2 separate regions of the Homo sapiens genome follow, and region 1 is linked to region 2. Evidence: fine-mapped expression QTL. A gene starts in region 2. The other region holds a variant in brackets. All regions are shown on one strand. Distances are between the middles of the regions.

Region 1 (4,387 bases), 84 kb before region 2:
ACTAGATGGGTGGGGTAAGGACAGAGAGAAAAGTTCCAGAAGCCCGAAATGGAGAGCTGAAGGGAAAAAGAGAAACAATAACATTGTTTTTTGTTCTAGAACTAGGCCTATTTAGTTTGTTTTAAAATAAAAGCCGCTATAGTAGGGAAAACATCATTCCTTATTGGGGAGAGAATGCAGAGCAGATAGCAAAGTTTTCATGCAGGGAAGAATAATCAATATTCAAAATCTTACTTCTCAATACACAGATGGATTGAATTCAGGCTTCAGCATCATTTAATTAAATGGACTATTGTTTCTCTCTCACGAGTTTTAGTGAGAGCATTGCAAGTATGAGGAGAGCAGGATTAGGTTCTAATTGAAGCAGATCTATCTGCCTCAAAGCCGAGGAGTACTGTTTAAACAGACTGAGAAGACTTTTATTTAAACTTCATATTCAAAAGGGTGTGGGTGCACAGATGGGTACACGTTACCTCCTTGGTTTCTAGTTTTAGAAGCAGGGCAAAAACGTTGGGTGAGTTCAAAATTTTTTTTAAATTACAGCTGGGTTTCTTCATAAAGCATATTAGCTAGGTGGCATTGAAAGGGTAGTATGTAATTTGTGCTTCTGCAACACTTTCTTCCAGAAAATGCGTTTAGATTTTATTTTCATTTATAATGAAAACCAATATTTAAATGCCTGTTATGAAGTAGCAGGTCAGGAGTTTTAAATGCACTAAGATAATTCCTACAATAACACTATTATTCCCATTTTTACAGCTGATGAAACTGAGGCTCACAGAAATTTTACACATTTTTCAAGGTCACTTAGCTAATAAATAGCAGAGCTGGAATTCAAAGCCAGTTATTTATGGTCCCCAAACCAATATTCTTTTTATTAGGTATTTCAGATTTTGAAGGAGATGAAGCCAAGGTGTATAATTCCTTTGTTTCTATTTTCACAGAGTTAAACTTAAATAGCAAATATAAGTCTTATTCCTCAAACTCTGCAAACAAAATTAATTTCTTTCATTTTCATAAATCAATTTAATGATAATTTCAGGCCCCCACCCTGCTAAATTGTCTACTAATTGCTGAAATGCCCCACTGTCTCAGCCCAAGTGTTTCCTTGAAGTCTGAAGTCAGCTATTTCCACACTATGTTTTATCCTTGGTCATCCTTGGCATGCCATGGCGCCACCCTTGGGCCCAGCCACTGAGGTCTGTTCCAGTCCCTGGGACTTCATCTTGAGAAAAGTCTTCTTTGATCATACTTCCCCAGAAGGACTCCTCTCTCACCTCAAATTCTGATCCCAACAATGAGTTTAGGCTTTTGAAAGTAAAAGACAGGGCCGGGTGCGGCAGCTAACGCCTGTAATCCCAGCACTTTGGGAGGCCAAGGTGAGTGGATCATTTGAGGTCAGGAGTTCGAGACCAGCCTGGCCAACATGGTGAAACCCCGTCTCTACTAAAAATACAAAAATTAGCTGGGCGTGGTGGCGGACACCTGTAATCCCAACTACTTGGGAAGCTGCAGCAGGAGAATTGCTTGAACCTGGGGGGCGGAGATTGCAGTGAGCCAATATCGTGCCACTTCACTCCGTCCTGGGCAATAGAGCGAGACTCAGTCTCAAAAAAAACAAAACTAAACTAAACAAAAAACAAAAAAAAAGAAAAGAAAAGACAGGAGGAGGATAACAATAGCACCTACTTCAAAGGGTTGCTGTGAAGATTAAATGAGTTAATACCTATAAAATGCTTAGCACAATGCCAGATATAGTACATGCTAGTAAATATTTGCTATTATTACATTACTTTAGAATATACTTACATATATCTTTTTCTCAATTTTACTTTGGTGGCCTGCAAAATACATGATAAAATGTAGAATTTGTGATGATTTGCATATAAGTGGTGCTGGTATTGGTATATGCCCTCCAGGCACAGAAATTCTACTCTTCTACTTCACACAATTCTCATCAAAAAGGAGAAAAAAGTACAATGCTGTTACAATTGTATGCACTGAATTTTACAGTATATTATTGCCAAGAAAAAAACTTCCATATTGTCTAGTTATCAATGAGAATTCCACCCTCCCCTTACAATTTTACACATGCTATGATTAGAAGAATTCCACAGAGGCTAGCTTCCGGCTCGAGTTTTTCAAATCTCGTGTCTCCTCCATAGCCGTATGTCCAGAATTACGTGCTGTATCTCACTTTCGTACCCCAACCCCTGGCCGTGAAGCTTGGTTCCATGATGAATCAGCATAGTAGATAAAAGGAGTATTCCTGGACGCCGTTTCTACACTGGCGTGATTGAAAACCACCTAAAAATCTCTTACTAAACCCAACTTTAGTGTAATCCCACCTCAACATCCCATTAGCCATATCCAAAAAATTCCCACACTCAGTGC[C/CA]ACCTGACGGGAAGGGAAACGTAACAGCAGTGAAGTCTGATTGGAAAGAAACAGTAACCTTAATTAATTAAGGTAAACGTATCTTACATTTGCAAAATTTCCATAAGCACTATGTAAATTTATGGCTAGGGTCCCTCTGAGGTCCCTGAAAGGTATCTGTGCAATAGAGGGGCCTGAAGCTTCAGCTTAGTTGATTTCACAGTAAATCGCATCACAAGTATTAAGTGGGATGATTCATGTAAACGGCATAGGACTGTGCCTAGCACATCCAACAAATGTCAACCCTTGTCTGCAGTCGAGTAGTAGTAGGGCTAGTAGGCGTTATTTGTGTTGATTTTTGTCCACATGCCCTCTCCTCCTTGTCTGCCCATTCTTGGCCCTTCTGTAACCTGCTGTGCCTCAGGAAGCTGACCCCTGTGCTCTTTCTTACACAGACTTCCTTGCCCCTGGTGCTTTCCTGTGGCCAGTGAGAAGCATCAGCAAGAAACTGGTAGGTGGGAAGAAAGAGAGTTTGGGCTATTTATATTCGTTCCCCCCATCTCCATATGCTCTCCCTCCAATTTCCTCATGGTTCGGGCTCTGTCTGCACATAGCTGTAGCTCCTATTGGGTGGATTCTCTCCAAGGACTATAGATTGTGCTGGTTTTGATAACACAACCTCCACCCTTTGCTCTCTTCAGGCCTAAAAGTAGAACAGGCTTCCTCAGTCCCTGGAGGCCTCACCATCCTTTGTTTGTTCCCTTAACCTGTCCATACCTTTGTAACTAGTGGCTTAATTAAATCCCTTTCAATAAGTTGTTTTGAGTATGCTGTTTCCTGCAGAATCCCTGATTAATACATTGTTTGTTCTGACCCCAACTAGTATGCCCCATGGTCATCCCTTTTCTGTCTCCTGATATCCTGAGATAAAAGGTATTGCCTATTTTCTCCTTCTCAGAGTAAGTCATGAAAAATATGTACATAAAGTCATTTTCCCCTCCAGTAGTATGGCCATAAACTGTATGAAATCCATGTGTGACTTAGAGGAGAGCTCTGCTTGTTGATCTAACTGTTAATTTCCCCTGGGGGTAACATGTCCCTTGGAGTGCTTAGCCTGTCTTTAAAATTTTTACGTTTCCATATGTGTTTATGTAACCACTTAGTTCTGTCCTATGTAGCTCTAGGGATATGTGCTACACTCAATGGAAGTTGAATTGTCCTGTCATATTACATAAGATGAAAATCTGACTCCATTCAACTGCCAGAGCAATAGCCAGAGAAGACATTAAGTGAGAACTGATTTTTGGCCCGGAGATCCTTTTCCATTCATGAGTCCTCTAGGGTTTCTCCAAGGCTACACAGATGGTCATTCTTCAAAAGGAATACAGTTTTTTTCTCCCCTTAGGAAATACTTAATCTGGACATTAGAACTGTTTCTGAGAGTGGGGAGGAACACAGGAAAAACTCACCAGCACAATGTTTATTTTTAATAAGAGAAAGGGAAAGGAATGTGCAGATAGAGAACATTCTTATGTTTTCTTCTTCATACAGCTGCAGGTGAGATCTCCAGAGACTCTGACTTTAGAAGTGCACCAGACCAGGAATCTCTGTAACAATACTGCCTGTGAAGAGCATGGCTCAGGCCTTGTTTGATCTGATAGTCATGGCCACCCATGAAGGACTTGTATTTGCCGAGTATTCCAAAAAATATCTCGCATCTGACTCTATCCTAGGCTGAACTGTTAATCTGTTCTTTCATCCCTTCAATCAGTATTTGTTGAGTGCCCATAATGGAGGAGGCCTTGTTTGAAGTGCTAAAGATACAGCTGTGAATACGACAAAGTCCTTGCCCTCATGAGCTTACATTCTAGTAGGAGAGACAGAAAATAAACAAGTAGGTAATTAAATACATATAATACCTTATAATTTTAATTAGTGATAAGAGCTCTGAGGCAGTAATGCAGGGTAAATTTGTTGTAATCAATCAATATCTTATTAATGTTGGTATGCAGAA
Region 2 (4,387 bases):
AATACCCCTTAGGAACAGTATCAGCTAGAACCCACATTATTCAACGAGAATGTTTGCCTGCTATATTAACCAGCACCACGTGGGAAATTCAAGCACTGTATAGAACACAGTGGGTTACAGGTTAAGCCCATCATGATGAGCTGATCTTAGTCTGCTTAAAGACCTGGAATGGAAGAAGGGGACCAGGAGGAAAAGGTGAGAATGAGGCAACAAGACTATTCTGTGTGACACATTCAAATGCATGCCAATAAATAAGTGTTAAGATAATAAAAATTAAGTGCTAAGGGCACTAAAAAGCCAAAAGATCACCTTTTGCCAGGGGAATTTGAAGGGGCTTTGTACAGGAATCCGTACTCTGAGGACTGTAGAGGTGAGTATTTGAAGATGAAGAGCCTGGGAATTCCATATTAGGAAAGGAAGCTAACTAGGGCAAGAGGTTAAGGAGAAAAAGCTGAATTGCTAGGTAGGGGGTAGATTACAAAGATTTCCCAGGGTAAGGAGCCAAATGCCCATGGGAAATCCATGCAGTAAAATAATGATTCCTAGGGGAAGCTTCTAAGCATATTAAAGTTTTCAATATTTATTTATTTTGTGTTGAGAGGGTCAAGGAATTCATGCCAGACTGTTTCAGGAGAGGGAGTTAAGAAGGGACAACAACAGGGAGAGGGCTATTATTTTCCCTTCTTCCCAAACACCAGGGGCACACTACTGACACATTTTGATTTTAAGATAAAATTCTTATGGGCAGATAAGATTTTAAGTGCTTCAAAGTGTTTCAGTTGGAGGCGCTTGCTTAGGCATCCCAAGGGAAGAACTGAGATTACATTTCTCCCCCAAACTAGGGGTGTTTGATTCAGTAGCAGCGCAGGCTGTTATTCCCAAAGTACCACTAATGATGCAATCATCAGTCCATCCACACATCGCCTACCTATCATCCATTCCATAAGCCAACATTTTTGAATGCTCACCATGTGTCAGGTCCCATACAGTGTTTCTGAGTTGCAACAATGAGTAAAACTGTCCTTACTAGTGTATGTCAGTGAGTTGGGAATGGGGGAGAAAGATGAAACAAAAATAGTAACTTTAATTTTTATAGCTGAGAGATGAATATTTGAGGGCTCCTTATATGATTTCTTCAGCTTTTTGTATGTTTAATAATTTCCCTAATAAAGTTAGATAATAAAAAAAACCCTTTCGGCCGGGCGCGGTGGCTCACGCCTGTAATCCCAGCACTTTGGGAGGCCGAGGTGGGCGGATTGCGAGGTCAGGAGATCGAGACCATCCTAGCTAACACTGTGAAACCCCGTCTCTACTAAAAAAAAGAAATACAAAAAAAATTAGCCGGGCGTGGTGGCGGGCGCCTGTAGCCCCAGCTACGCGGGAGGCTGAGGCAGGAGAATGGCGTGAACCCAGGAGGCGGAGCTTGCAGTGAGCCGAGATCTCGCCACTGCACTCCAGCCTGGGCGACAGAGCGAGGCTCTGTCTCAAAAAACAACCAACCAACCAAACAAAGAAAACAACAACAACAAAAAACTGTCCTTTCTTTCAAACAAGGGAGCTACATTTGATAGATGCCTGTATCACAAGGGCAAGTCCAGCCATGAAATTAATCCCAGGATATTAGTGGAAGAGAAGACCCTGGGGCAAGATGGGGAAGGTGGTCAGGAAATGCCCTCCAGTGAAGTTAGGTAAATGCTCTCTAGAAGTAATTGTTCAGATTAAGGAAGCCAAAAGCTAAACACCTGACTCAGCCTCAAACTGGGTTTGGAGGTGCTCACAGGTCAGGATCAGGAGTGAGGAACTAGCCTCTACCACATTACCTTCACTTTATTTATCTCCTTCTTCCCCCTTTGCTTAAATGTCAACGAACATCAAAGTTGATGTTCAGATTCAACCAGCATTTCCAGAGCACCTACTATGTATCAAAGGCTTCCGGTTAGAATCTGCCTTTACCACCTTACAGAGAGGGAAGGCCGAGAATGCCTCAAGCCGTGGAGAACGTGAGTCCATCAGGCAAGGACAGGTTAGGAACCCAGTCCCTCCAAGTCCAAGTCAGGGAAAACAGGTCAGAAACTTAGAATCAGTCGTGGGTTCAAATTCCGACTCGTTTCGTGGCTTTCGGCAAGTGAGTGGTCCTCTCTGAGCTGGCTCAATTTCTCCATCCATAAAAAGGGTACAGTAAGACCGTGGAAGGTTGTAAGGACCAGAGATTCTGACTATCAAGATCCTGGCACGTAGCGAAGGCTCCATAAATGGCAGCCATCATTCTTGGCCAAGTGCGGGCGCATTCTCCCGGGCACGCCTCCCGCGGGGTCCCTCAGGACAGGCCGAGCCCGCCTCCGCGGCTCCGGTCTCGCAGAGCTCGCGCCAGGTGGCCCAGCATCTTGGTGCCCGCGCCCCGAAGCGAGGAGCGAGGGCGGGTTGGATGACCAAGGTCTGCCCTGGAGGATCACCCCCCCCGCCCCTTCCACGCTCCCGGCGCAGGTGAGGTTTTCGGCCCAGGCCACGGGGACCGCGACCTCTGGGGAGGTCGAGGCGGAGGGTGCAGCGGGGGGCTTGGAGCAGGGCTCCAGAGGGCGCTCCCTCCCTCGCCCAGGTTCACCCCAGGGCCAGCCTCGGCGCCGGGGCCCGCGGGCTGCGCGCTCTGCGGCTGCGAAAACCCGGAGAGGCGGATTGGAGCGCGCTCACCGCGCTCTCAGCCAACTCCTCCGCGGTCCGGCCGCCGAGCTGGGCATGCTCAGTGCGGACGCCGCGCCGCCGTCCGCCAACTCGGAAGCTCGCGCTCCCGGGCCGTGGGGGCGAGAACGCCGGCGGCGAGCCGGCGTCGCTCGCCGCCCCCAGACAGTGGCAAACTTCGCGGCGTTCCCGGAGCTCGTCCGGGCGAGGCAGATACCGCACAAATAAAATCAAATCCAAGTCCCCCATCCCAACCCGAATGATGGAGGCTGCGGCGGCCGGAGTGACCCCGCCGCCGCCAGCCCCAGCCCGCTAGCCGCGGACCAACAGGTAAAGTGTTGGGGGTTGGGGGCGGAAGGGAAGAGGAGCTGGGGCCGTGGGGAGGCGGCGGGCTGGAGGAGCCCGAGACGCCTGCGGGCTGGCTGCCCCCGTCGGCGCTCACAGCCATCGCTCCTCACCCCCTTCCCCAGCCCCTGGAGGGACTGTAAAGGGTTAAGTCGGCCCCACGCCACCGTGAGCACGGCCCCCTCCAGCCGCCGCGACCGCCAGCAGCGCGCCTCGGCGCCTGCCCGGAGCCGCCGAGGGGACCGTAGCTGCGGATGCGCCACTGGAACCTGGCGGGCGTCTAGGAGGCACCGGCCGCTTCCCACCGGCCGCATCCCTGCGTCTCGCGCCCCCTCCAGACCTGCCTCTGCCTGCACTGGCCCGGTCCGTGTCCAGGTGGCGGGGTCTGCGGGGCGCGTGGCGGCGGGGGAAGGGTCCCTGCCGGGGAAGAGAGGCGGGGGCGGTCCGCTCCACAGCTTCTTCCCGGGAGGGGAGGGCCACCCTCGCCTTGGGCGAGCACTTCAGCCACCAGCCTAGGCGCCAAGAAAAGTTTTTTTTTTTTTTTTTCCAGTGCCCCACCCCCACCCCCATCCTGCGCCCAGCTGGGGTGGGTTTGGGTCCATTGGTGAAAAAAGTCACACGTTCCCATCAGCTGCTCCTCCCCCTGGAGACAAGGTAGGGGGGAGCAGAGGAGGCAGGCGCCGCGGAGGACCCTGGCCGACCTCTAGTCCCTCCGCCGCCGCCACCGGAGCGGTGCGTCCCGGGGCTCGAGCGCAGCCGAGTACCCGCCGAAGGCTGTCCCCATCAGTGCGTGTCTGCTGCCGGGCAGCGGCAGCATCCAACCTGCTTTATTCCTCCTGCCTGCAGCGCCACAGCGAGCGAGCGAGCGAGGAGGGGGAGAGAGGGAGTCTGTCTGCAAAGTGCTGCTCCCTGGTGCTCAGAGGCGGCTGCTCCAGCTCCAACTCTCATTCATTTCGCCGGTTAACATGAGAGATCATGGCCGCCTTCGGGCTTCTCAGCTATGAGCAGAGACCGCTGAAGCGCCCCCGGCTCGGGCCGCCCGACGTCTACCCACAGGACCCCAAGCAGAAGGAGGTAAGGGCGCCGGCGGCCTCCCCGGCAACCGGGGCCGCGCTCTGCAGCACTGACCCGGGGCCAAGTTGGCCCAGCGGGCATCGCCGGCGCTGCGGTGGAAGAGGTCGGGGAGGGGGATTAGAGGCGGGGGCCAGGCTGGGGGTGCTGGGCGACCCCCCGGCGGCGGAGACCGAGCGGCTGTCAGTCCCCGCGCTCCACTGGGGCGCTCGCTTTCCATGTGCCGGTCGCTTTCCCGTTGCCGGGCCTTGCACGGCGCCGCCGGGCGCTTCTCGGGCTTCTTCCCTGCCGAAAC

What was found. PIP is the estimated chance that this variant, and not a neighbour inherited with it, causes the effect. A credible set is the group of variants that fine-mapping cannot tell apart.
Region 1: its variant is the best candidate, but not a certain one, in a credible set for the expression of MED12L in tibial nerve (GTEx, PIP 0.76).

What each region holds. Positions count from the first base shown.
Region 1 is chr3:150,998,746-151,003,132 of GRCh38, forward strand. The region is part of intron 1 of CLRN1-AS1 (CLRN1 antisense RNA 1); the gene reads left to right. Among named protein-coding and RNA genes, the nearest start is that of CLRN1, 28 kb to the left of the region's middle. The variant C/CA (reference allele first, on the strand shown) is at 2,395.
Region 2 is chr3:151,082,931-151,087,317 of GRCh38, forward strand. It overlaps MED12L (mediator complex subunit 12L), which reads left to right and starts at 2,734. Exons shown (of 45, transcript NM_001393769.1): 1 at 2,734-3,006; 2 at 3,868-4,095. The coding sequence starts at 3,997. RefSeq lists silencers at 2,386-2,755, 3,192-3,486.